Homo sapiens: one gene and its partners. The protein of the gene in region 2 interacts with the protein of the main gene of each other region in a pairwise test. Each region holds a gene or a part of one and is shown on either strand. Other genes may lie near its edges.

What was found.
Region 1: the proteins of SAV1 (region 2) and RASSF3 interact in a two-hybrid assay, tested with the Homo sapiens proteins (one study listed by IntAct).
Region 3: the proteins of SAV1 (region 2) and GSTO2 interact in a two-hybrid assay, tested with the Homo sapiens proteins (one study listed by IntAct).
Region 4: the proteins of SAV1 (region 2) and ECHS1 interact in a two-hybrid assay, tested with the Homo sapiens proteins (one study listed by IntAct).

Annotation. Positions count from the first base shown.
Region 1 is NC_000012.12:64,613,477-64,620,503, reverse strand, and holds part of RASSF3 (ras association domain-containing protein 3), read right to left. Parts: intron 1-7,027.
Region 2 is NC_000014.9:50,637,298-50,644,324, forward strand, and holds part of SAV1 (protein salvador homolog 1), read right to left. Parts: intron 3,597-7,027; coding exon 3,453-3,596; intron 1-3,452. UniProt on the Homo sapiens protein: Regulator of STK3/MST2 and STK4/MST1 in the Hippo signaling pathway which plays a pivotal role in organ size control and tumor suppression by restricting proliferation and promoting apoptosis.
Region 3 is NC_000010.11:104,279,165-104,286,191, reverse strand, and holds part of GSTO2 (glutathione S-transferase omega-2), read right to left. Parts: intron 6,823-7,027; coding exon 6,721-6,822; intron 258-6,720; coding exon of another isoform or gene 225-257; exon of another isoform or gene 202-224; intron 1-201. UniProt on the Homo sapiens protein: Exhibits glutathione-dependent thiol transferase activity. Has high dehydroascorbate reductase activity and may contribute to the recycling of ascorbic acid. Participates in the biotransformation of inorganic arsenic and reduces monomethylarsonic acid (MMA).
Region 4 is NC_000010.11:133,363,328-133,370,354, reverse strand, and holds part of ECHS1 (enoyl-CoA hydratase, mitochondrial), read left to right. Parts: intron 1-323; coding exon 324-451; intron 452-1,332; coding exon 1,333-1,432; intron 1,433-3,361; coding exon 3,362-3,466; intron 3,467-4,259; coding exon 4,260-4,379; intron 4,380-5,629; coding exon 5,630-5,697; intron 5,698-7,027. UniProt on the Homo sapiens protein: Converts unsaturated trans-2-enoyl-CoA species ((2E)-enoyl-CoA) to the corresponding (3S)-3hydroxyacyl-CoA species through addition of a water molecule to the double bond.

The DNA of each region.
Region 1 (7,027 bases), on a different chromosome or scaffold from region 2:
TAAAAACAGAATTACCATATGATTCTATAGCAACTGTTACTTATGGGTATATATCGCAAAAAGTTTTAAGAGGGGTCTTTAAGAGATATTTGTACACCCCTGTTCACAGCATCATTATTCACATGAGCCAAAAGGTGGAAGCAATCCTAATGTCTATGGAAGAATCAATGGATAAACAAAAAGTGATATATACATACAATGGATATATTATTCAGCCTTTAAAAGGAAGGAAATTCTGACACATACTCCAACATGAATAAATCTTGATGACATCAAGCTAAGTAAACTAAGCCAGTTACAAAAAAACAATTACTACACAAATTCACTTATCTAGACTAGTCAGACGAACCTATATACGCCCCCCATGAAGGCAGGTTTCAATCTGTTTCGTTCACCACCAAATCTCTAGCACTTAGTCTAGCATCATTGTGAATATTCAATACTTGAAAAATGAATTCAGAAAACTACACACACACACACACACACACAGTCAACCTGCACTAATTTCTTTTTTTTTTTTTTTTGATATAAAGTCTCACTCTGTTGCCCAAGCTGGAGTGCAGTGGCGCAATCTCGGCTCACCACAACCTCCACCTCCCAGGTTCAAGCGATTCTCCTGTCTCAGCCTACCGAGTAGCTGGGAGTACAGGCATGCACCACCATGCCTGCCTAATTTTTGTATTTTTAGTAGAGACGGGGTTTCACTATATTGGCCAGGTTAGTCTTGAACTCCCGACCTCGTGATCCGCCCGCCTTGGCCTCCCAATGTGCTGGGATTACAGGCGTGAGCCACCACGCCTGGCAACCTGCACTAATTTTAAGTGAACTCTTTGCTGACTATATTCTAAGTCCGTTAACTCCAAGATCTTCTAAATCCATCCTTCTGGTCTCCAATTCCCAAACTCACCCTTTTTCCTCCTCTAATTATCTCACCTTGTTTAGCATCTGGAAAAAGAACCAAGTGAGGCAATATATAATTAGTAAATTATTCTTAGCTGACTGAATCATGTAGCAGCAGTTAGCAATTACAGTCCACAAAATGCAAAATATTAAGCTTGCTCCTTTAATACTCTATGAAACATGAGCCCTCTTCTGTCCTTAAACTGAAGGCAGAGTTGCACCGAGAATGCCATTAGGTCAGTTTTATCTTATTGGCTCATGTGGAAAAAAAAAAGGGAAGTTCCCCACACAAAAGTTTCACAACCCCAAAATGCTGGTATGTGTGTCCCTGGATAGGCTGAGAAGAAACTATCCCCAACAGTAAAGGGCAAGTTCCCCTTCACAAAGAAAAATCTTCCCAACACACCAGGCTGGTACCCCCACATCCATCCATCTGCAGCCACCAAGACAATGGAGATTCAAACCTCTGGCAAGGGCTGCCAGCCCTGCTTCAGCAAACAGCATTGTTCAACAAAAATATCATGCGAGCCACATGCATAATTTTAAGTTTTCCATAGCCATGCTAAAAAATAAGTAACATTAAATTTACTTAACTCAAATATTATCGAATATTATCATTTCAACATGTAATTGCAATTTTTTAATTATCATATTTTACATTCTTTCTTTTTTTTTATTATTATACTTTAAGTTTTAGGGTACATTTCTAATCTTCAAAATCCAGTGTGTATTTTTCACAGCAATCTCAATCAGACTAGCCACGTTTCGATTGCTTAAAAACTACATGTAGCTAGTGACTACTGTATTGTACAGCACAGTTTTAGAATGGTCACTTCTATCTCAGAATATATTTTCTGATTTGTTACTTAAGTTTTTACATATATTTCAAATACTCATCATTTTTTATGGGTTCTGACATCCTTCCTAGAGCATTATCTGGCCCTCTCCATTTAAAAAAAACAAAAACAAAAACAAAAGGCCGGGCGTGGTGGCTCACGCCTGTAATCCCAGCACTTTGGGAGGCCAAGGAGGGCAGATCATGAGGTCAGGAGTTTGAGACCAGTCTGGCCAACATGGTATAACCCCGTCTCTACTTTAAAAATACAAAAATTAGCCGGGGATGGTGGCATGCCCCTGTAATCCCAGCTACTTGGGAGGCTGAGGCAGGAGAATTGCTTGAACCCAGGAGGTGGAGGTTGCAGTGAGCCGAGATCACGCCACTGCACTCCAGCCTGGGCAACAGATCAAGACTTGTCTCAAAAAAAATAAAAATAAAATTAAGCAAACAAAAGCTATTTGACAACACTACTGATAGCCAAACCAGAACTACCTGTTTAAACTATTAAGAAAAACCTGGAATACTCAGGAGGCTAAGGCAGGAGGATCATGTGGGCCCAGGAGTTCGAGGCTATAGGGCACTATTATCATGCCTGTGAATAACAATTGCATTTTAGCTTGGGCAACATAGCAAGATCCCATCTCTTTAAAAATGAAAAAAGAAAAGAAAAAAGAGACCTGGAAAATAAACCAAATTTGATTTGGTTAATTTTGGTTAACATTTTGGTGAATTAACCAGTTTGGTTAACGCTGGTTGAAGTTATTTAAAAAACATTTTCTAACCTTGAAGATGATTACGTTTCTGTTGGAAGACAGTCATCAATAAGGAAATGTGATTGTTTTACACAGGGACGTAAAACAGGAAGTGATACACTTCCACGTCAACATTCCCATCTAAACAGATGTATAGGGCCGGGCACGGTAGCTCATTCCTGTAATCCCAGCACTTTGGGAGGCCGAGGCGGGCAGATCACAAGGTCAGGAGTTCAAGACCAGCCTGGCCAATATGGTGAAACCCCATCCCTACTAAAAATATAAAAAATTAGCCCCATGTGGTGGCACGCACCTGTAATCCCAGCTACTGGGGAGGCTGAGGCAGGGGAATTGCTTGAACCCAGGAGGCAGAGGTTGCGGTGAGTGGAGATCGCATCATTGTACTCCAGCCTGGGTGACAGAGCAAGACTCCGTCTCAACCAATCAATCAATCAATGTATAGCTTTACCACACTACAAAATAGGTGTGTTCCTGAAAAACTACATTTCAAAGTTTCCTCAAATACACTAAAGGAGCAAGCTCTTTAGGGAAAAATTAGAGAGATATTTTCATTTGCCTATTGGGTAAGCTTTTTAAAAACATTGCCAAAAGAGGCCAGGGACTGTGTATTGTTCACCACCCTAACCCCAGAGGTTAGAACAGTATCTGGCACATAGGAGGCACACAATAAATTGTCAACTAAATATATTAATGAATAAATGATGAGTTTTCTTAAAACAAGGGGAAAGTATATAAAGTGAGTTATGCTTAACCAGTAATCACAGATATTACCAATATCATCCCATTTTAAATCACTACTACCTGTAAGATACTGTGAAGGCTTATGGTCTAGTTTGGAAAGGGGGAGACATTGTGTACATTTGTGTATAAAGGAAAACTAACAGTACCAAATACTGGGACATCCATCCAAAATGAGCAGGCTTTCATTTGTTCAAGCACCTTAAGTGCCAAGCATTTATATTATGTAGTAGGTAAAAAATGCTAGTCTCTGTCCTCATTAAACAAAATATAATGATAAATTATAATTTTTGCTATGAAGGGAAAGAACAGCGGGCTTTAAGACTTTTCTGAGTCGACATGTTAAGGAGAATGGAGGGCGGCAACTCCAGGCCATGGTTCTGAGATGGCGATGGGGCCTGAAAGGAATTAAAGAGAAGGCTAATATTGTTGGAGTCCTAAAAGCTCTTACATCACAGGGTGAACAATAAGCGGGGCCTTGTAATAGAGGTAATGCCTGCTTGCCATGAGAATAAAAACTTCCTACAAGGCAAATGTGTGTAGCTCTTCAAACAGAGGAAGATGCAAAGAGGCTAAGTTAGCCAAGACTTGTCATATAGAAGAGAAGCTCCTTTGCATGCATTTATCATATATCCTACTGTCTTTTCACCATCCCCTCTGAAGAGGGACTGCTAGCCAATGGCCTTTGGCCAAATTAGGAGTGAAATACACGTTTCAAACTGGGGCCTTTATTGAAAGACAGCTACTTATGCTTGGAGACTTGGGGGTGGAAAATGCGAGGGCTAATGCCCAGGGCTAAGAGTTGGTGATCAGGCCACACTAGAAAGTATTTGGTCAGACTCAGTTTTTTTTTCTCCCAGAAAAAGAATGTTAACCGTATGACATGCACTGACTGCCAAAGGAAGTCTAAAAAGAATAACCACATTATTGGATATTTTTAGCCTTTCTTTTCAAAAATGTTTTGTGTCACTGCTTTCCAAATAATTCCAAATCTTGTGAGTTGGCCAGAAGAAGAAATGGGATAAGGAGTATACTACTCAAATATGAGGCTTTATAGGACTGGAAACTTTTTCTTCTGAAATTCATTTAAAGGAATATGCCTTTGTGAATCTTGCTCACACAAACACAAAATTCCAATGGATTAATATCGTGTAAGAACAGAACATATCAGACATGCAGAAAAGATGTGTAAATCACCTTGCCCTAGGCAAAATGTCTGGTGAAAATGTTTATGCCCCATAATACGGGAATTAAAAATCAGCATTTAAAAAGCTAGTATAGGCCAGGAGTGGTGGCTCACACCTGTAATCCTAGCACTGTGGGAGGCCGAGGTGGGTGGATCACCTGAGGTCAGGAGTTTGAGACCAGTTTGCCCAACATGGTGAAAGCCCGTCTCTACTAAAAATACAAAAAATTAGCCAGGCACTGTGGCGGGAGCCTGTAATCCCAGCTACTCGGGAGGCTGAGGCAGGAGAATCATTTGAACCCAGGAGGCAGATGTTGCAGAGCCGAGATCACACCACTGCACTCCAGCCTGGGTGACAAAAGCGAAACTCCGTCTCAAAAAAAAAAAAAGAAAAAGGCTAGTAGAGTCAAAATACCTATTATGTCATAAACCACTATTCTTTTACCCCAGTGATCTAGCTCTAAACTTCTAATGGAAACACTAATAAAAGAGTGCAGCTCATTACTGTTGATTCTAGCAATAAGACACAACCAAATAATTGAGGCACAAAAATATTTGAATAAGAAAGAGAAAACCGAAAGGGTGAAGTTGAGGCCTGCTATGGGGAGTCTAATAGACTTACTTACTGAAGTAAAATTCTTCAGCGCAATTTTTTTTAAAGTGTGGGTTGTTCAGAAGACAATTTCACGTTTCTCAAGACTTCTTGACTACCCTACTTCTAAAGCAAAAATACTGTCTCATTTCCTTATTCCCATGAACTACCAAAGGCTCAGGAGGAGAGGTAGCTTAGCTAAGAGGTAAGACACACTCTGACAGATTATAACTTTAGACCATTTCTATTCTTTGGAAATCTGAATGTGTCCTGTATTTACAGGTAGTTTGATTTTGGTGGGAAATCAAGAAGGCAAATAATAAATTACACAACTGTCCACATTTTTGGTTTTGCTGAAAACAATGATTAGGTGGATCCTTTGAAACACAGCGAATCCACAAATACGTGAATCCACAAATACAAATTATAAACACTGTCATGACTATATGCAGGTCAGGGAGTTGAAATTTTAAGAAACAGCCAGGCGCGGTGGCTCATGCCTATAATCCCAGCACTTTGGGAGGCCAAGGAGGGCAGATCACTTAAGGTCAGAAGTTCAAGACCAGCCTGGCCAACATGGCAAAACCCCATCTAGACTAAAATACAAAAAAAAAAGCCAGGCCTGGCAGCGGGTGCCTGTAATCCCAACTACTCAGGAGGCTGAGGTATGAGAATCAATTGATCCTGGGAGATGGAGGTTGCAGTGAGCCAAGATCCTGCCACTGCACTCCAGTCTGGGTGACACAGTAAGAATCTATCTCAAAAAAAAAAAAAAAAGAAAAGAAAAGAAATTTTAAGAAACTCTTAAATTTTAGGTGTCCTTATTTGCAAAGGGAATATGGAGCCATAAAATTATTTTTATAGCTAAAAAGTAACAAAATAGAGAGTGTAATTTGAGTCTGAAAACCTGAGTTCCAGCCTTCTTGCTATCTAGGTGTGGGCCTTATACAATCACTAAATAATACCTCCCCCTTTCATTAAGTTAATGTTTCATACAGTTTTTGGGAGCACCATAAGATACAGTACATTTGAAAATGGTAAAGATCAGGGGCCAGGTGCGGTGGCTCACGCCTGTAATCCCAGCACTTTGGGAGGCCGAGGCGGGCAGATCACCTGAGGTCAGGAATTCAAGACCAGCCTGGCCAACATGGTGAGACCCCGTCTCTACTACAAAATTTAGCTGGATATGGTGGCAGGTGCCTGTGATCCCAGCTACTCGGGAGGCTGAGGCAGGAGAATCGTTTGCACGCGGGAGACGGAGGTTGCAGTGAGCCGAGATCACGCCATTGCACTCCAGCCTGGGCAACAAGAGTGAAACTCCATCTCAAAAAAAAAAAAAAAAAGAAATGGTAAAGACCCAGTTACTATCAAATCAGGAAAACATTCATTCATTCAGCTTGCATTCACTGAGCAACTACTGTATATCAGGTACTGATCGAGACCCTGCGGATACAATAAACATGACATTCAAACTGCCACAAAACGTCATATGTTCGTTCCCTTTATATCTTTTAGACAGTTTTGTTTTTGAGACAGGGTCTCGCTCTGTTGCCCAGGCTGGAGTGCAGTGGTGCGATCACAGCTCACTGCAACCTCTGCCTCCCGGCCTTAAGCAATGCTCCCACCTCAGTCTCCCGAGTAGCTGGGACTACAGGCGAGCACCACCATGCCTGACTAATTTTTGCATTTTTTTTGTAGAGACAGGGTTTCACCATGTTGTCCAGGCTGGTCTCAAACTCCTGGGCTCAAGCAATCCTCCCATCTCAGCCTCCCAAAGTGCTGGAATTACAGGCATGAGCTACCACACGTGGCCTAGACAGGTTTTTTAACCCTTTTCCATTTTTGTTGTTGTTCTTGTTGTTAAGAATGGGGTTTAAAGTAAGAAAAAAAATGAAAACATTTTCTTTATAAGGTTTTTGTTACTGTTGGGGATAGAAAGAAGTTGCACTATGTTCCCTTGCCTGGCAAGAGAAGAAAGAAATTTCCAGTCCACCCGCTCC
Region 2 (7,027 bases):
TACTCAATGAGCCTCCATGAAGAAACAGTTATAAGGTATTTCTTAGAACATCCACCATTCTTGTAACTTAAGATTTTATGTGCTCCTTGGAAACAAATTCATAATTCCTAACAAAAAATCTTAATCTCCCAGAGTTAGCTAAGAGGCAATTCAGCAATGTCTACTAAGTCAAGATGGTTACCATTTATACCAGGTGAACTACAACAATGTTAAACTAATCTATCATCTGTGTACTTTCTAGCAAGGAAAACAAAGAACAAAAATAAGATGGTAAATATTATACTTATTTTTAAGACACGAATATCATTCTGTATAAGTATTCAAGTTTTGTCTAAAGGAAGAAAAAATCTTCAAACAATTTTGTCAGTTTTTTTTTTTTTTTTTTTTTTTTTAAGAGATGAAGATCTCCTATGTCTCCCAGGCTGAAGTGCAGTGGCTAATCACAAGCACAATGCCACTACTGATCGGCACAGTAGTATTAACCTGCTCCCTTTCCAACCTGGGCCAGTTCGCCCCTCCTTAGGCAACCTGGTGGTCCCTGCTCCTGGGAGGTCACCATACTGATGCCAAAGAGTACAGACATCCGACTGGCATAGTGCATCACAGCCCAGAACTCCTAAGCTCTAACAATCCTGACTCTGCCTCTCAAGTAGCTTGGATTACAGGTGCACCACCATGCCTGGCCAAGTTTCTGACTTGCCAATCAGCATTCAGCATCAAGAGTACGATTATGGGTAGAAGCAACAAAATCAGATTAGAGAAAATCCTTCTGGGGGAAGAAAGTGCACTCCAAGAAGGGCACAGATGTGAAAAAACTGCAAAGCATGGAATGGAAATCCTATTCCAAATTCTTTCCTCTGTTGCTTCTACATAGTTACTACCCTTCTGCCTATAATCACCTAAGTGTTCCTTCTTTTTCTGAAAAGTATAAACTCCCATTCTTTCCTTCTTAACTAGCCAAGAAATTTGCTTCCACAAGTTTAACTTTTAGTCATTTATACTGTATATACACAGGTAAATCATTCCGAAAATTGGGTGTAAAACACTCCAGTAGTCCATGCTTCTAGCATCTCTTTCACTCTGTTTTTCCTAGGGCAGTATTCTATTCAAATACTACTTATAAATAAGCCATATATACAAATGCCAGTTGCTATAATGCTACCAAAAATAACCTGTCCACACTGCATGCTGACTTCAAGATCAACAGTGCTGCTATCCTCAGCTCCAGGTATCACCATGTAGCCTAAGTCCCCTGCACCCACCCGCCATAACACTGTGTCCACTCCTCCCTCTTTTTCACCTGTATCCAGAGCAGGGTCAATGGTGACACTGCAGGACTGCCAAGCCACTGGAATAAAAAATACCCCTGCCACACACTGCTGAGGACTAGTGTTTTGGTGTGTGTGTGAGAAATAACAGAAAGTAAATATGTTCTTGACAATGTTTTTGCTGTCAAAGATTAAATTTTATTTTATTATATTTTATTTTGAGATGGAGTCTCGCTCTGTCACCCAGGCTGGAGTGCAATGGCGCAATCTTGGCTCACTGCAACCTCCGCCTCCCGGGTTCAAATGATTCTCCTGCCTCAGCCTCCCGAGTAGCTGGGACTACAGGCGCGTGCCACCATACCCAGCTAATTTTTTGTATTTTTAGTAGATACAGAGTTTCACTGTGTTAGCCAGGATGGTCTCGATCTCTCGACCTTGTGATCCACTCGCCTCAGCCTCCCAAAGGGCTGGGATTACAGGCATGAGCCGCCGCACCCGGCCTAACTTTTAAAATTTTATCCTATAGTTCAGCTTGAGTACAGTTATACCAAGCATTATAGACTTTTGTGAGCAGACACAGGAACATAACTTTACAAAAATTAAATACAAATTTAAAACACAGTCTGTTTCTAAATCAAGTTTTAGAAGTATATGCAAAAATTGTGTTGGTAAATTACTGTGAGAGATAGGATTAAAGAATTTCAGGATTAAAGAATTTCAGATTCTCAATTGTCTGAAAAACAAAAGGAAGAAACATGCAAATTTTTTTTGCAAAAATGTCTCTTTTTGTTGTGATAATTGATTCTCATTATCTAATTCATAGATAACCACTCACCCTTTGTTGATAGAATATTAACCATTTCCATCCTCTTCAGCAACATTAATTAGAATCAACTAGAAAGCAACAGGCTTCCAGACCTCTTGTTTAAGTTTTTAAGCAGTAAAGAAGTATAGTACTTGCTCCCTTTTTGTCAGTCTGGCCCATTTTGGAAGAATTACAACCTATTTGCTAGTTTCCTTGAGTTTTATAGTTAGCTCACAGAACCACAGAATTCAAAAAGACTATAATCTTCAGGAATCTGTTTCTTTCTGTAAGAAACCAGGAATTCCATTTAAGTACTATCTCTTCCCCCAAAAAGGAAAGATTATGCTATTTCTTATTAAACATGACTATAGAGTAGAAATAACATACAACAGAAAGAATAACTCTCCTCAACCATATCCACCCCCAGAAATACTAAGGTTAACAGTTAGGCACATATTCTTCCAGATTTAAGGAAAATAAAAACGCATACAGATATTATGTACTATTTAGAATCAGCATACAAACATACAGCTGTAGGTCAGGTGGTATCAAGGGACAAAGAAAAGAGGAAAATAGGAAAGAAAATGCCATCTGCTATCATTCCTTTTTCTGGCACTAGTAGGGGGGCAGTCAGGGTCTCTCATGCTCTGTCACCCAGGCTGGAGTGCAGTGGCACAAGCATAGCTCACTGCGGCCTCAAACTCCTGGGCTCAAGCAGTCCTCCCACCTTAGCCTCCCAAGTAGCTGAGATCACAGGCATACACCACAGCATGCTGCTAATTTTTAAATTTTTTATAGAGACAGAGTCCTGCTATGTTGCTCAGGCTGAACTTGAACTCCTCAGATCAAGCTATCCTCCCACCTCAGCCTCCCAAGTACTTGGGACTACAGACCATGCAAAAAGCCTGGCTAATTTTTAAAATTTTTCTGTGGAAATGGGGCTCTCGTTATGTTGCCTAGACTGGTCTCGAACTCCTGGACTTAAGAGATCCTCCTGCCTCAGCCTCCCGAAGTGCTGGGATTACAGGTGTGAGCCACTGTGCCAAGCCCAGGTCCTTACTTTTATCACAAGTACTGTATCACTTATTTACAAATTAATCTTCTCCTATGAGAATGTAAGTTTCTTACTTGTATCCCTAATAGCAGAGGCCCGCACACAAAGAAATGAAGATTCTATAAATGTCTGAAGAACTAATATTTCTAATTAATGATTTTCACACATTATAAACTATGACATCCTTTATTCAAGTCACGTATTACTTAGAAGCCGAATATTATTAAGAGTAAAATATGGCACACTACTTGGATCGAGCAGCCCAGAGACTCCATTCAGCCCTTCACTCACTCCTCAAACAAATTTGTGTTGTAAATGTACTTACTTCACAGGGGCTCGTGCGTAAACCTGAAGCCAGTCAGGAATTTCTGCAGTATGATATGGATTTGCAGGTACCAGAAGGGACTGATTTCTTTCAGTTTGCTGTGGCTGGTATGTGACAGGAGGTGGTTGATCATACCGAGGTACACTAAGAAGAAAGGAGTGACATTCTTTAGGATAAAGGTCTTAAAATCTAAACAAGAAATTATAAAGAACAAATAATACTTAAGCATTTTTCAGTGTGCCTTCTGTCCAAACTGACTTACACCACCTGAAAGGTAATGTATTTTTAAGATATTTCTTCTGGCTGGTATTTAGTCTTTTCAAAAACAGGTTCAAAGGAGGATATGAAAAAGCTGGAACTAAGTTTTAACCTTTATACAAAGGCTTAAAACTAGAATAGTAAATTCCCACAAGAAATAGTCATCAGCTGTAAATTCATATCAGAAAGGTTGACAGTTTCTAAGAAAGGATGTTTCCTTCCTCCCGTAGGCTGAAAATGGGGGTTAGGATATGTAGTGACGCAGCAGTGAGTATTGTGTTTGAAATATCTCTATCCAATGCAGATAACTTTTCAACTTTTACCAACTCAAGAGAACATATGGGAGTCAGAGTTGATCAGAACCTATTTTAAGTCACAGAGATTAAAAAAAAAAAAGACCATACTTTAGTTCTAATAGCCTGTGTATGCTGTGGGGAGTGGAGATATTATATGGGAAAGTGTAAGGAAAGCACTGAACCACCTGAAGGTTAATAGCTGAACTCGAAGCGGCCAAAAGGGTCTATTTGAGACCAAAAGGGGTCTGCACCTTCAAACATAAAGATTTATGTGTATATGTGGCCAACAAGCATATGAGAAAATGCTCAACATCACTGCTTATTAGAGAAATGCAAATCAAAAGCACAATGAAATAAATACCATTCCACATCAATCAGAATGGCTATTATTAAAAAGTCAAAAAATAACAGATGCTGGTATGGTTGCAAAGAAAAATGAATGCTTATACACTGCTGGTGGGAACATAAATTAGTTCAGTCACAGTGGAAAGCAGTTGGGAGACTTCTCAAAGAACTTAGAACTATCATTCAATCCAGCAGTCCCATTAATGGGACTATTTCTACAAAGGAATAGAAATCATTCTACCATAAAGAAACACGTGTGCACATGTTAATTGCAGCACTATTCACAATAGCAAAGATACGGTATCAACCTAAATGCCCATCAATGGTGGGCTGGATAAAGAAAATGTGGTATGCAGACACCATGGAATACTACCCAGCCATAAAAAAGAACAAGAGCATGTAGTCTGCAGCAACACTGATGGAACTGGAGGCCATTATCCTAAGTGAATTAATGCAGGAAGAGAAAACTAATACCACATGTTGATAGGTAGGAGCTAAACACTGAGTACACATGGACACAAAGAAGGGAACAATAAACATTGAGGCCTACTTGCGGGCAGAGGATGGGAGAAGCATGAGGATTGAAAACTACCTATCAGGGACCGGGCGTGATGGCTCACACCTGAGGTCGGGAGTTCGAGACCAGCCTGGCCAACATGCAGAAACCCCGTCTCTACTAAAAATACAAAACTTAACCAGGCTTCATGATGCATGCCTGTAATCCCAGCTACTTGGAAGGCTGAGGCAGGAGAATTGCTTGAACCTGGGAGGCGAAGGTTGAGGTGAGCTGAGATCGCGCCACTGCACTCCAGCCTTGGCAACAAAAGTGAAACTCCGTCTCAGAAAAAAAAAAAAAAAGAAAAGAAAAACTACCTATCAGACACTATGCTTATTACCCGGGTGATAATCTGTACCAAATCCCCAAGCCATGCAATTTACCCATGTAACAAACCTGCACATGTACCCCTGAACCTAAAATAAAAGTTAGGGAGAAAAAAAAGAAAATGTGGTGTATATATAACAATGGGGAGAAAAAAATGCATGTGTATATTAGAAAAGGTCACTGTTTACTAAACTGGGATTAAAATAAGGTTAGATTATGCTGTGGTTAACAATTTTAAAAGATCAATATGCAAATGGAACTGAATTCTATCTTCAACTCTTCTTTCCTAAATAGGTTCAAAGGAAAATGTTCTTTGATAGTACAACTGGGGGTGAAGAAGAATTGGGACTTTGAAGTCAGGTACGCCTGGATTTGAACCACAGCTTTAACACTTACAAACTATGTAAATGTAAGCAAAACTCCTCCTATCCCTAAGCCTCAGCCTCCATACTTGTAAAAGTGGAATAATAAATTCATACCACAGGTGGTTGTTCTCAGGATTAAATGACCTAATGTAAGTCAAGAATTTTGTATAAGGATTGGCCTAAGATAGACAACCAGACAACTAGTAATACTACATATGTGAGCTTAAGGGCAGCGTTTATTCTCTCTTGTTCAACTTCTACCAAGTTGCTGAGAGAAGTAAATTAACTAATTATGAAATTGCTTTTAAAAAACTATTAAAATTCTGTAATAACATAAGGTTAATGATGATTGTATTAGTCTATTTTCACAATGTTATAAAGAATTACCTGAAACTGGGTAATTTATAAAGAAAAGAGGTTTAATTGACCCACAGTTCCATAATTGGGAGGCCTCAGGAAACTTAAATCATGGCAGAAGATGAAGGGGAAGCAAGGCACATCTTACGTGGTGGCAGGAGAGAGAAAGAAGGGGGAACTGCCACACACTTTTAAACTATCAGATCTCATGAGAACTCACTACCAGAACAACATGGGGGAAATGGCCCCCATGATTCAATCACTTCCCACCAGGTCCCTCCCTTGATACATGGGGATTACGATTTGAGATGAGATTTGGGTGAGGACACAGAGCCAAACCATGTCAACGAACAGAAAAGTAAACTCTCAAATCTGGTTATCTGGACTGCAACAATCATTGCCACCTGATGACCACACCACAGGTTTGATTCTTTCAAAGGACAACAACCTCAGTAGTTGAATAAACACTGATTGGGTGCCACTACATGGAATCATGGGAAAAAACAGATTTTCAAAGTTGAATTAATAAATCCAAATACATAAAATAATTAAAACAACACAATAATGATAAAGCTTAGTTTTCCAGTTGATAATCCTAAAACACATTTTCATAACTATTTTAATGGTTCTAAGAAAATACAAATGTCCACTATAACCAAAAAACTGTATTATGCCAGATGACACTAAGCAACATTTATCAAAATGCAGATGATATTTTACTCATTTTTAATCTTGTGGCTCAGCTTTTGAAGCTCAAATGTGGTTAATTTGAAATATTTGCAACTTCATTACTAAACTAATACTAGCTTTTATGTACTTTGAAATCCAGTGTGTATTTACACTTACAGCACATCTCAATTTATATTAATCACATTCAAGGGCTCAACAGCCACACGTGACAACTGGCTATCAGGCAGCACAGGGCTAAAAGTCTGGCAACAAAGCAGATCTACCCAGCCCAGTATCAATCAAAACAGCACAAAGAATTACTGGCTATATTTATTAAACAGAAATGGGATGTTTTGTTCAGTCCCAATTTTCACTTTCTTGTCTAGTAATAGCAAGAAACAG
Region 3 (7,027 bases), on a different chromosome or scaffold from region 2:
AATACTGGTGATAGTTGCACAACTCACTTAATATACTAAAAGCCAGTGAATTGTACACTGGAAAAGGGTGAATTTTGTGGCATATGAATTATATCTCAATAACTTATTAAAAATAGCTAGTAATAATGAATTTAGTTTATAGACATGTTAACTTAGATGATAAAAAATTTAGCTTGTAGTCTACTATATATAAAAGGATACAGAAAATTGTTTTCAGTGACGAATTAACCAGGTATAAACTTTCTTTTCTTCCTATCCTGGTGATATCAAAGGAGAAACAATTAAACAATATATAAATAATTTCATCACTGGAAATTAATAAAAATTAAGAAAGAGCAAAAGCAAAACTAAACCAAGACAATATAATCTAACTTGAATAAATGTCTTTTTTGATGAGAAGAAAGAACAGTTTAAAAATTAAGATTACCAGGTGCAGTGGCTCATGCCTGTAATCATAGCACTTTGGGAGGCTGAAGTGGGAGAATCACTTGAGCCTAGGAGTTCAAGACCAGCCTGAGCAACATAGTGAGACCTCGTCTCCACAAAAAATTAAAACAAATAAAAACAAAAACAAAACAGTTGGGCATGGTGGCCTGAACCTGTGGTCCCAGCTACTCAGGAGGTTGAGGTGAGAGAATCACTTGAGCCCAGGAGGCTGAGGCTGCAGTGAGCCGTGATTGTGTCACTGCACTCCAATGTGGGTGACAGAGTGCGACCCTGACTCAAAAAAATAATTATAATAATAATTAAGATAACGGAGGCAGGCTCGGTGGCTTCAGCCTGTAATCCCAGCTACTCGGGAGGCTGAGGTGGAAGTACTGCTTGAGCCCAGGAGCTCAAGACGACAGTGAGCCATGACTGTGCCACTGCACTCCAACCTGGGCAATAGAGAGAGACCCCAATCTCTAAAAGAGGAAAAGAAAATAAAATAATTAAAAAATTAAGATTATGGGCAAAATTTAGAATCAATAAAGTATTTAACTACAGATGCTCCTGGGTGATGCACACATAATTTATGCAAATTCCACCTCATGCAAACTGCTACACATAAGGCACATGATCAAGTTTGGCAATGCGGGAAACTCTGCGTGGAAATGCAAAGTGAAGCACCCCAAGGCAGGTGGTTGAATGACAAGAAGCAAAACCATAAAGTGCCCTGTGGCCACGGGCAGACGAAGGCTTCAGTTGCTGGGCCATGTCTCATCCCTCAGGGCTATTTCAGCATTATTTATGTTATCCCCTCCCCGCTCTCTTTTATGGAGCTCTGATGATGACGAAGAAAGGACCAAGCAATAGTCAGAGTGCAGAACCAATTCAGAAGCCACGAACACTTTCTAGATTTAAAGCAAAACTCCAAAGCCTCAAGGAAATCTGACCAAATCCACCTTTCACTGCACTTGGACTTGATTTGACTACTTCCATAATGAAAATATTTTTGGAAGGCACAGATAAAAAGTGACACCAAGAGGTCCTGCCACATTCAAATCCACAAAGATCAAATGAAGCCTGGCTCAAGTCCCATTCTGAAATGGGAAAGTCAATACCTGAAAAAGAATAAAACTAAAAAATGTGTGCTGCTTAGAGTAATGATTCAGTAAGGGCTAGAAAATCTGCTTGAAGACATAAAGTGCAGCAAGACAAGACAAGTGTCATAGTTTTAAAACTCATGCCAATGTTCAGAACAGGAAAGCCAGTGAGCAGGCTGCTAGTTTGATAATAAAAGTGGCAGTAATATATCTCAAAGAATTGTAAAAGATATTAGAGAAAAATGTGGTTATATAACAAGCACAATAAATCTTTGATTTTGATGGAACTTAATTTTTTTTTTCTTGGAGACAAAGTCTCACTCTGTCACCCAGGCTGGAGTACAGTGGCATGATCATAGCTCACTGCAGCCTTGACCTCCTGGACTCAAGTGATCCTCCCACCTCAGCCTCCCAAGTAGCAGGGACCACGGGTATGCATCACCACATCCAACTAATTTTTGTATTTTTTGTAGAGATAAGGTTTTGCCATGTTGTACAGTCTTGTCTCGGACTCCTGGATTAAAATGATCTGCCCGCCTCGGCCTCCCAAAGTGCTGGGATTGCAGGCATGAGCCACTGAACCCACCTGAAACTAGATTTAAAAAACTAACAAGCAAACAAAAAAACAAGCCAAAAAAAAAAAAAAACTTAAAAAGTTAGACAAGGCAGTTATTTCAAAAGAAGAAAGTGTCAGAGTTTAAGGCCACAAAAGGTTAACTGAGCCTTCTGTTTCAGGATAACATAGCAGAAGATTATGCATGAAATCTTGGCTTGCTTATCACTCAGAAAGACAATGAGTATTTAATATATTTTTAGCTCACAAAAAATCCTGATTGTGCAAAACCATGTGAAAGAGTTACATAAATCAGGGGATCCTCTCCATTAGAATTATTCTGATAAATTTCAATTTCACTAGAATCTCCTGGAATAAATATTTTGGCATTTAAAGGAACAGATCGCATAATTCAAGTACATTGGTCATGTTTTCAGATTTCAATATTTCCTACATTGTAGTTATAATTCTTTGTTTATTTGTTTTTGAGACAGAGTCTTGCTGTGTCACCCAGGCTGGAGTACAGTGGCACGATCATAGCTCATTGCAAGCTCAAACTCCTGGGTTCAAAAGATGCTCCCGCCTCAGCCTCCAGAGAAGGTGGGACTACAGACCCGCACTGCCATGACCAGTTCATGTTTTAATTTTTAGTAGAAACATAGTCTCACTGTGTTGCCCAGGCTGGTCTTGAACTCCTGGCCTCAGGTGATCCTCCCTCCTTGGCCTCCCAAAGTGCCTGGATTACAAGTGTGAGCCACCACGCCCAGCCATAGCTACAATTCTTGCTAACATTCTATGGGACAAAACCACATTCAAACCTGTTAGGACAATGTGGAGTACTCAGTGGTCCTTAAATAGCATCAGTGAAAGCTACCTACACCGAGGCTGGTTAGTGAAAGCTACCTATATAGAGGCTGGTTAACAACAGTGTTCCTGGGGCTCAGTTATTGAAGATAAAGTGAAATTTCTTATTCAGTGACATGCTGGAGCTGCCCACATCTTTTGCCAGCTCTTGAGTTTAGAAATAGCACATTGGTAGCTCAAAATTAACCTTGACGGAAGTGTTTACACCACCCAAATCAGCAAATGCTATAAATCCGTGCTTTTTCTTTTTCTTTCTCTTTTAAGAGAAAATTGATTCTTAAACATTTATCACCACCCCACTAATGACATTCCTAAACTCTCTGGTGAAAGCTCCTAGCCCATAAAACCATTCCAAAGGTCCAGTAGAGACCATACATTGTTCTTCTAAGCTCTGCCCGCATATGAATATCCCATCAACACCACAAATTTGACAAAATGTGTCTTCCCTCAAACTCTTAGTGAAAAGCATCACATTTACCGGCCACAAACTTGGAAACCATCCTCCATAACTCCTACTCCTTCCTCAGATTTCATCTCATCTTAGTTCCTCAAAATCTCTCTAATTAAACCTCCCTCTCCAACCCTCGTTAGTGGGGTCCTCTTTGTCCCTTCCCAGTCCCTCCTCTTGGACACTCTAATCCATCCTCTACATTCTTGCTGGGCTGAACTTCTTCTTCTTCTTTTTTTTTTTTTTTGAGATAGGGTTTCACTGTGTTGTCCAGGCTGGAGTGCAGTGGTGCAATTATAGCTCACTGCAGCTTCAACCTCCTAGGCTCCAGTGATCCTCTCATCTCAGCCTCCCAAGTACCTAGGACTACAGGCATAAGCCACCATGCCAAGCTAACATTTTGTATTTTTTAAAGAGATGGAGGTTTGCCATGTTGACCAGGGTGTTCTCAAACTTCTGGGCTCAAGCGATCCTACCGTCTTGGCTTCTCAAAGTGCTGGGATTACAGACATGAGCCACTGTGCTCAGCTGGGCTGAATACTTTTTCTTTTCTTTTCTTTTTTTTTTTTTTTTTTGAAACAGAGTCTCACTCTGTTGCCCAGGCTGGAGTGCAGTGGCGCAGTCTTGGCTCACAGCAACCTCCCCCTCCTGGGTTCAAGTGATGGACTGAATACTTTTAAAAGCATGAAGGAGTACACCACTCTCCTGCTTGACAGGCTTCAATTACTCACCATCAACTCTGAAATAAAGTGCAAATCCCTGGGCACAGTGGAAAAGGCCTTTTAGCATCTGACTCTGGTCCACCCTCCACATTCACCTCTTACCAATCACTCCCTCGCTGTCAACCCCTCACTGATTATTGTTTGCCGAACACACCAGGCTCTCACCCTTGTGCCTCTAATTCATCCTAAGAGTCAACAGAGGCATTATCTACCCCCACAGACCAGCCTTCTTGTATGCATGTCTCCAGCCTAGCACTCAACACACCCAGGTTTTAAATGGGCTTAACAGCCTATCTCCCTGTCCAGGCTTTGAGCCCCTCGAGGGTCTTTAATTTCTTTTTATTCCTAGTACCTAGTTCTGAGCCTTTACAGAGAGGCCACTCCAATTTGCAAAACAGGACTAGTACCATTTGTACCTGAGAAGGTTGTTGGAAAGATTGAATGAGATGATGTATGCAAGTATCTGCAGCACGATTCATGGCACAAAATACTGGTTCATTTGCCCTGGAAAAGACCCCCGACTGAAGAAGAACTGTATCTCCATCATAACCCTATACTTTCATCTAGCAATCTGTAATTTAAAAAGTTCATCCATCATCCAAATGGAGGTAGAAGGGAAACTGATGAAAATGTTTCAATTACTGTATCGTTGAATTCAAAGAGTTTTTTTTTTCCCAGCTCCTTTCCCTGGTCCAGTATTTGTTTATCTGTGAGAAGGTAACCAGGCATGATGGGGTCCATTCAGCTGATCTTTAAAATAGACTATAAATTCTCTATTCACAAGATTTTCGAACTTCTTTTTTAAAGCAGCAGCTCTCCTCTCTCCCCAAATGCCATCTTCTTAGATGTCAGGTTGAACATGGTGGTTGAAGGCAGTGCTGACCTAAGTAAAGCAGTGTCTAGAACAATCTACCAGGCCTCCACTCACTGGGCAGTCCCCTGCAGAACCCAGAGGCTCTGAGGAACACACATTTCAAAATAATCCCTCATTTTACACATGGGAAAACCAAGGCCCAGAGAGGTACAGAACATTGCCCAAGGTTCTGGAATTCAGTAAAGCCAAGCCTAAGATCCAAGATTCTTTCCACCACATCATATGGCCTCCTTGGAGTCAAGGCCACAGTTGGTGACCTCAGGACAAAAGGTTGACATTTCCTACACATGACCATTCGTCATCCATAAATACTTAATCGTACAAATTTGAGATAGGCAACTGGAAATATCAATACATTTAATCTGTTTCCACTTGATAAAGGTCAAATGGAAGAGTATTAATAACCAGTCTTCCCTTAAGGGGAAAAAAATTGTATTCTCTGGCTGCCAATAGAGGAACCACCCACCCATAAGGTGAATTTGTCAGTTTCTGGAGCAAAAATAAAGGAAGTAAAAGAACTGCCTTCCTGATTATTCTAGAAGTACAGGATAAGTAGCTCCATTACTGCCAGGTTAATGAAGCATCTACTGGCAAAGAGTATTCCTGCCACCGCACCCATTTCCCCCTTCTTCCTTAATTACAGACCTCTGATTTTATTCAGGGTATCCCAGCTAAAAGACTGTATTTCCCAGCTTTCTCTAAGATAGTTATGACCCCACAACTAAGTTCTGGCCAACGAAATGTAAATAGCCATTGAGTAGAATTTCTGGTAGGATTTAAAGCCCTTTAAAGGGGTATGACCATTTGCCATTTTTTTCTTTATATTCTCCTTTTCAGAGCCTGGAACTTGGATGTGATGGCTGCAGTGACAGCAGCTATCTTGTTATTTTGAGGATGATACCCTTGTACTAAGTTGTGCTAAGGATGACAGAGCCCATAAAGAGAAAAAGCTTCAGTTCCTGATAATGTCATGAAGAAGCCATCAAGATAGGCCTGAACTGCCTACCTCTGGCTTTTTTTTTTTTTTTTTTTTTTTTTTGTCAGTCCTACTTACTCTGTCACCCAGGCTAGAGTGCAGTGGTGCAATCATGGCTCACTGCAGCTTTGACCTCCCAGACTCAAGCAATCCTCCTGCCTCAGCCTCCTAAGTAGCTGGGACTACAGGTATACATCGTTATGCCTGGCTAATTTTTAAAATTATTTTTGTAGAGGAGGGGTCTTGCTATGTTGCCTAGGCTGGTCTTAAACTTCTAGGCTCAAGTGATCCTCCTGCTTCAGCCTCCCCAAGTGCTGGGATCACAGGTGTGAGCCACCGTATGTGTGAGAATAAACCCTTATAATACGTGAGAAAGAATGTTATGTGAGAGAGTAAACCCTTACAACATGAATTTACAGTAGTTAGACTTCAGCAGCCAAACACAACCCCTAACCTTTACAGACCTTGACCTCATTGGCAGAAGCTACAGAAGCCATGCAGAGCTACTCAGGGAGATGGGGTGACTCTGGGAAAGGAAGCAATTCATGGCATGTCCTCCCCAACTCCTCATCAGATTTTCCAGAATAATTCTAGACCAGGTTAGAGGAGGGCAAACATGCAATCAGATGATCAGAAGTCTGACTTATCAAAGGCAGAAAGAATAAGCCTGTGAAAGCTGGTGTTAGAGTGACCAGGTTAGCGACCCTGCCTAGCTTCCTCCACTGTAGCTGACCAGGAGAGGGACCCCTTTTTGTACCTCTTCCAGGTTGCTGAATTCCTGACGCAGGGCTGCCTTCAGATTAGTGCATTCTCTCCCACATCTCAACGCTACCAGGCACTCCTTGGTCAAATGTGGGACCTAATCAGAGGACACAGGTTCTCAGTGGAGAAGTCTGTGGAAACTTCCAGTTCCTGTTCTGCCTGAAAAGGCAGCGAAGCTTTATAACTCCAGCCTAACAGGGCAACACCCACATCAGACCCCCCAGCTCCCTGTGAGAGGCACTAGGTTTTCTCTGTGGTTCCGGTTCTCAGTAGGAATCTACTTCTTATAGTACCCTGGGAAA
Region 4 (7,027 bases), on a different chromosome or scaffold from region 2:
CAAAACAGCTTCTTCAAAGGGGTTTAGGTCCTTGGCAGTCAGGCTTTGTGTGTGTCAAGGGCTTATGCCCTGACAAATATGCCTAGCCTCTGTGGGCGCCTCCCTTGCACCTGCTGCCTGCCTCAGGGCCCCTCTGCGTGACTTCTGTTCTAGCTGGCATTACAGCGTCCCTACAGCTGTCCACGTGGCCTGGTGTCAGCCGTGCCCAGCAACCCCACTGCCTGTGTCTGGTGTGCTCTGAAGTTCCTTGTTGGTCTGAGAGATATAGGATGGGTGGGCTCTCTGCTCTCTGGTAACTGGAACCTCCTTTCCACTCCTGCTAGCTGGAGCTGATATCAAGGAAATGCAGAACCTGAGTTTCCAGGACTGTTACTCCAGCAAGTTCTTGAAGCACTGGGACCACCTCACCCAGGTCAAGAAGCCAGTCATCGCTGCTGTCAATGGCTATGCCGTGAGTGTTGCTGCCAAGAGTCTCCTCCTCTCGTGGTTGAAGGAACCGTGCTGTGCATACACAGCATAACAGATTTTTATTTTGAAGAGGCCTTTAGTTCCCAGGCCAGCAGCCTCCTTTCCTGCCTCATGGTGCTAAAGAGCCAGGAACTGTGTGGAGAGGACACCTCCTGGCATCTGCTTTTTTCGTGGCTGTTCACCTGACAGCTTCTCCCCAGCAAGCCTCTCTTCCAGGGTGGGGGAAGAGAGGTGTTGGCTTTGGCTACATCTATAAACTAGCTTCTTTTGCTCCCCTTGAAAGCTCTGTGTCCTGGGACTATTTGAAGTGCTGAGACTGATCTTGGCCTATAGGGAAGGCAATGTGATCATTTCATGACGCTCCCTGCCGTGTAAGCCAGGGGTCTGCGGATTGTGATCATTTCATGACGCTCCCTGCCGTGTAAGCCAGGGGTCTGCGGATTGTGATCATTTCATGACGCTCCCTGCCGTGTAAACCAGGGGTCTGCGGATTGTGATCATTTCATGACACTCCCTGCCGTGTAAGCCAGGGGTCTGCGGATGGAGTTTTCCCGGCACAGCCACACCCACCTGTGCACCTAGTCTCTGTGGCTGCATTTCGGCCACAGCAGCAGAGTTGAGTCGTGGCAGCAGAGCCTGTAAGACCCTCATGGTCCTTTACAGGATGTTTGCCAGCCCCTGGTAAACAGCATCAACCATCTGTAGTTAACTTATCATAACAATTATCTAGTTTGGTGCCACCATGTTAGTCTTTGTCATACCCCCAACACTGTTTCTTTTAAATGGAAAATTTGAATAAGCAAGCAGAGTGATTTCTGACTGGGTTCCCCTGGTAAGACTCTCCTGATGCCGAATGTTTTACAGTTTGGCGGGGGCTGTGAGCTTGCCATGATGTGTGATATCATCTATGCCGGTGAGAAGGCCCAGTTTGCACAGCCGGAGATCTTAATAGGAACCATCCCAGGTAAAGAGTGACACTGTCTCTGGCATAGATGCCTTAGGTAATTACTCAAAATCTGCCTGTGTCTCAGGGCCCACAGCTCATATCTGACCAGAGGCCCTGGATGGACAGCCCCATGGCTGGTCAGTGGTCCCTCTGTGGACAGCCACGGAGGCTAGAGTGGTTGTGACAGAGCTTGGGGGGGGCCTTAGAGTCCCGGGACTGTGACTGTGCCCACATCTGATGGTGTTGGGAGAGGCTGGTCCTGGGTAACGCTGGCTTCTAACCATGACAGTTCTTGCTTGTGATTCGTGTCCATGGCAGAGAGGGAACATGGTGACCCTGGGTGGCACTGGGAGCTCTGCACACTGCCATCTCACTGGCCATGGAGGTCACATGGCCTGGGTTCAGGGTGGGGAGTCAGACCCCCCACCCAGGCCCGTGAGAAGGGCCTGGGCTCTTGGCAAAAAGCAACACCCTCTAACCCCAGGGTTCTCCTGGTAGGAAGGGTGGGCCCAGGCCGAGCAGCCAGGAGGGAGCTGAGACCCTGAGGGGAGCAGCTGCACTCAGGGTGCCCTTCGCTGCCCTCTGAGTTGGACGAGGCCGATTCTGAGGCCTGGAGCTGTGAGCTCGGTGCATTTGTTTCGGGTCTGATCCCTAGAACAGCTGCTACTATAAGGGACCAGTGCCTGGGGTCAGGGAGGCCTATAAGCTTCTAATATGTTGACCACAGAGGCTGGGGAGGGCCCTACAGAGTCATCACCTTGATCTAATGTCAGGGTGTTGGGGGAGTGTAGTGTCCAGCCCTACGGGGCTTAGCAGGTGTTCTCCCCATGTGCGGAGACGAGAGATTGTAAGAAATAAAGACACAAGACAAAGAGATAAAGAGAAAACAGCTGGGCCTGGGGGACCAATACCATCAAGAGGCGGAGACCGGTAGTGGCCCCGAATGGCTGGGCGCACTGATATTTATTGCATACAGGACGAGGGGGCAGGGTGAGGACGGTGAATCCTCTAAGTGATTGACAAGGTGAAGCAAGTCACGTGATCATGGGACAGGGGGCCCTTCCCTCTTAGGTAGCCGAAGCAGAGAGGGAAGGCAGCATATGTCAGCATTTTCTTCTATGCACTTACAAGAAAGATCAAAGACTTTAAGACTTTCACTCTTTCTTCTTCCACTATCTGCTACGAACTTCAAAGAGGAACCAGGAGTACGGGAGGAGCATGAAAGTGGACAAGGAGTGTGATCGTTGAAGCACCACAGGGAGGGGGTTAGGCCTCCGGATGACTGCGGGCAGGCCTGGAGAATATCCAGCCTCTCACAAGAAGCTGGTGGAGCAGTGTTCCCTGACTCCTCCAAGGAAAGGAGACTCCCTTTCATGGTCTGCTAAGTAATGGTTGCCTTCCCAGACACTGGCGTTACTGCTTGACCAAGGAGCCCTCAAGCGGCCCTTATGCAGGTGTGACAGAAGGCTCACCTCTTGCCTTCTAGGTCTCTTCTCACAATGTGCCTTCAGCACCTGACCCTATACCCGCCAGTTATTTCTTGGTTATATTAGTAATACAACAAAGAGTAATATTAAGAGCTAATGATTAATAATGTTTATACTAATGATTGATAATGTCCATGATCATCTCTATATCTAATTTGTATTATAACTATTGTTATTCTAACTATTTTCTTTATTATACCGAAACAGTTTGTGCCTTCAGTCTCTTGCCTCGGCACCTAGGTAATCCTTTGCCCACAGGGGAGCACCAGATGTGGGGCCTGAGCTTGAAAAGGGGCTGCTGCCCCTGATGTTCCCGGGCTCTTGTGCTGCCTGGCCTCTGACCCCTGGACCTAGTCTCAGGGCCTATCTTAAGCCCCTTGGAATTTGCTGGCTGCACAGCTGTGATGTCTTCTTGGGTTCACTCATCACAGTGCCAGCCATGACCAGCCCCTCCCTGCAGGTGCGGGCGGCACCCAGAGACTCACCCGTGCTGTTGGGAAGTCGCTGGCGATGGAGATGGTCCTCACTGGTGACCGGATCTCAGCCCAGGACGCCAAGCAAGCAGGTATGGGTTGGGGCTGCCCGCAAGAGCCACCTGGAAACCCGGGGTGGGAGCCCCACAGAAACCCAGGGCGGCATCCAGGTGTCCCCCTCGGGGGAGCCCCACAGAAACCCGGGGCAGCATCCAGGTGTCCCCCTCATGGGTGCCCCACAGAAACCCTGAGCTGCATCCAGTTGTCTCCCTCGTGGGAGCCCCACAGAAACCCAGAGCTGCATCCAGGTGTCCCCCATGGGGGAGCCCCACAGAAACCCAGGGCGGCATCCAGGTGTCCCCCTCGTGGGAGCCCCACAGAAACCCCGGGCAGCATCCAAGTGCCCCCACGGTGGTTGCATGAGCTTTTGGGTCCTGAGGACCTGGGAGAAGACTGACTGCCTTTTGTTTCTACATTTTGAAGTACTGTATGTACGGAAGTGAACCACACGTAAGTATCTGGTACAGAATAACAGCCCAGCAATTGCGTCCCCAAAATGCAGTGTAAGCAATGGGCATCTCCAGGCCTCAGTGGCCGGTCCTCCCACTGCCCTGTTGGTGATCACAGTCCCCGTGTCTGGCCGCCTCTGCCGTCGGAGCTGTGGCCAGCCTGGCCCACATGTCTGAGAGCACAGTGACCGCAGTGCCGAGATCACTCAGCACTCAGGAAGGGGCACGTGCGGCACTTCCCGTGTGGAAGCCGCCCTTGCTTAGCGTCCAGAGGCTGGGGTGCTCCAGCCACGCTGCTCCCCAGCGGCCACTCACTCGAGAAGGGATAGACAAGTGCTGTTTCTGCACATCACTCACTGACTTTCTTGTGTTTCAGGTCTTGTCAGCAAGATTTGTCCTGTTGAGACACTGGTGGAAGAAGCCATCCAGTGTGCAGAAAAAATTGCCAGCAATTCTAAAATTGTAGTAGCGATGGCCAAAGAATCAGTGAATGCAGGTAGGGGATCTGCCAGGAAGACACTGGAGAGGTCTCCGTGGCTGTCAGGAGCATTCCTCAGCAGCAGGCTTTCTGGCTCCAAATGAATATGCCTTAAGCCCTCCTGGGCAGAAATGCTTCTCAGTGTCTCAGTTCTGCTGTCTGTAGAGTCGTGGTTTCTGGTCACGCACTCAGGAACTCCGCTGAGATGTTCCCAGCTCCCCTTTGTACCAGGGCCCAAGAACTGAGCCAGGCCTGGGAGGTGAGGGCAGTACAGAGCTGGCAGTGGCAGGGAAAGGCTGAGAAGGGAGCAGAGGTCCCAAATGTAAAATGGTCTCTGCCATGGGGAGGCTCGGTTCACCTCCCGAGACCTGGGGTTGGCGGCTGCGTGTGCGCCTGGCAGGTGGCTACGCAGGCTTGCAGCCCAGCACCACGCTGTTCGTTCTTGGCCTGGATCCCTTTTAGTTCTCCCTCTGCCAGGGAAGTGGATCTGAACCTCCCCCTCCTCAGAAATGCTCAAGTTTTAATGTCACAATTTATTCTCAGCATGTGGAATGAGATGGTTATTAGCTGGTTGAGTCCGGACAGGTGTGGGTGGCCCCAGGCAGGTCCCCTAACCTCTCTGAGTGCATTTATCTCGAGGGTGTGGCCGTCCCCCGGGCTTGCCGTTGGCTTGAGGCAGGATACAGTGAGGAGAGCATTTTGAAAGAACGGAGGCTGCTGTCGCCCGAGGTGTTTGGCAAGGTCGTGCTCCCCTGGGAGAGGATGCTGGCACCAGCCCTGGAGCCACAGCGCCTGCCTCCATCTGCGCACCTGGATCTGCTCTGCTTGGCCTCGTGCAAAGAACGGGCCTGGAATGAGCAGAGCCAAAGGCGTTCTTGGTGCCGGCCGCGCCCAGCTCTGGCTCTCGTGCTGTCCTTCCTGGTTTTCATCCTTGGTTATTTTTCTCTGTTTGCAGCCCCGTTGCCGCCTCACAGCCTCTCCTCAAGGGCACAGTTTGCCATCTCACCTTTCATCCAGTTCCTCTCCCTTCTTGGGGCCGTGGGCTACCGGAGTGTGACGTTTGGGGGCCATAGCAGAGCTGTTGGTTCTGCCAGGTCTCCGCTGGGGCAGTGCCTTTGAGAAGGGCGGCACCATGGAAGCCTGTGCAGGGCTGGGCCACGTCGAAAGCACAGTTGTGCATGGGTCAGTGAGGAGGGCTTCCTGTCACCGTGCAGGAAAAGTTCTGCATGTAATATCTCCGTTCATAACTCTGGGACTTTGTTTTTCAGCTTTTGAAATGACATTAACAGAAGGAAGTAAGTTGGAGAAGAAACTCTTTTATTCAACCTTTGCCACTGTGAGTAAACAGTGTTCAACCGGAGAATCAAGCAAATTCCAGTCACACAAGTTGCTGGGAATTTCCTTTTAAATTTTATCATTAAGTATCGTTTCTTTCTGGTCAGAACTGCCAGCCTCACCTTTAACGGGATCAGATTGGTTCCATCAGTGGGTCTTGATGTTAGGAAAAAAGTAGAGCATGTACAAGTTCAAAAGTACAGAAACCTTACAGGGGCTTTTCTTGTTTTTCCTGTTATGTGAGGTCTGTGAATTGCACCCTCAAGCAGCTCCTTTATTGAAAATGCAGTTTCAGCCGGGTGGGTGTCGAGCATCCGTAGCCCCAGCTTCCTGGGAGGCTGAGGCGGGTCGTTCGAGTCCAACTGGGCAGCAAAGCAAGACCCCGTCTCAAAAAAAAGACTTTTTTAAAAAATGAGGCCGGGCGCGGTGGCTCACCCTGTAATCCCAGCACTTTGGGAGGCTGAGGCGGGTGGATTGCCTGAGCTCAGGAGTTTGAAACCAGCCTGGGCAACATGACGAAACCCGTCTCTACTAAAAATCCAAAAAATTAGCCGGGCGTGGTGGCAGGTGCCTGTAATCCCAGCTACTCTGGAAGTTGAGGCAGGAGAATCGCTTGAACCCAGAGGCGGAGATTACAGTGAGCCGAGATCACGCCACTGCACTCCAGCCTGGGAGACAGAGTGAGACTCTGTCTGAAAAAAAAAATGTAACTCATTTTACCCATGTTTTTTTAGATCATTCCAATTATTTGGAATAGGCTCAAATGTATTCTAATAAGATAAGCTGAAGCTTTAGAGCAATATTTTATAAGATTTCTGCCAGTAACTTAAAGTAATTCCTCTAATTACCATCATAATTTTAATTTTCTTCCCTTTGAGGCAGAGTCTTGCTCGGTCGTCCAGGCTGGAATGCAGTGGTGAGATCTCAGCTCACTGCAACCTCCACCTCCTGGGTTCAAGTGATTCTCCTGCTTCAGCCTCCCGAGTAGCTGGGATTACAGGTGCCCACCACCACACCTGGCTAATTTTTGTATTTTTAGTAGAGACAGAGTTTCACCATGTTGGCCAGGCTGGTCTTGAACTCCTGACCTCAAGTGATCTGCCTGCCTCGGCCTCCCACAGTGCTGGGATTATAGGCGTGAGCCACTGCACCCGGCCAGATTACCATTTTAATTCATGTCTTTCACTGGGAGAAAGTCATACTTCGGTGTTTTAATTGTTCTATAAAATAAAAATTAAAAGTGGTTTGGGCACCTGAGGAAGGGGTACAGATGCGTGTGTGTGTGTGTGTGTGTGTGTGTGTGCGCGCGCGCACACCTGGGGACACACGTG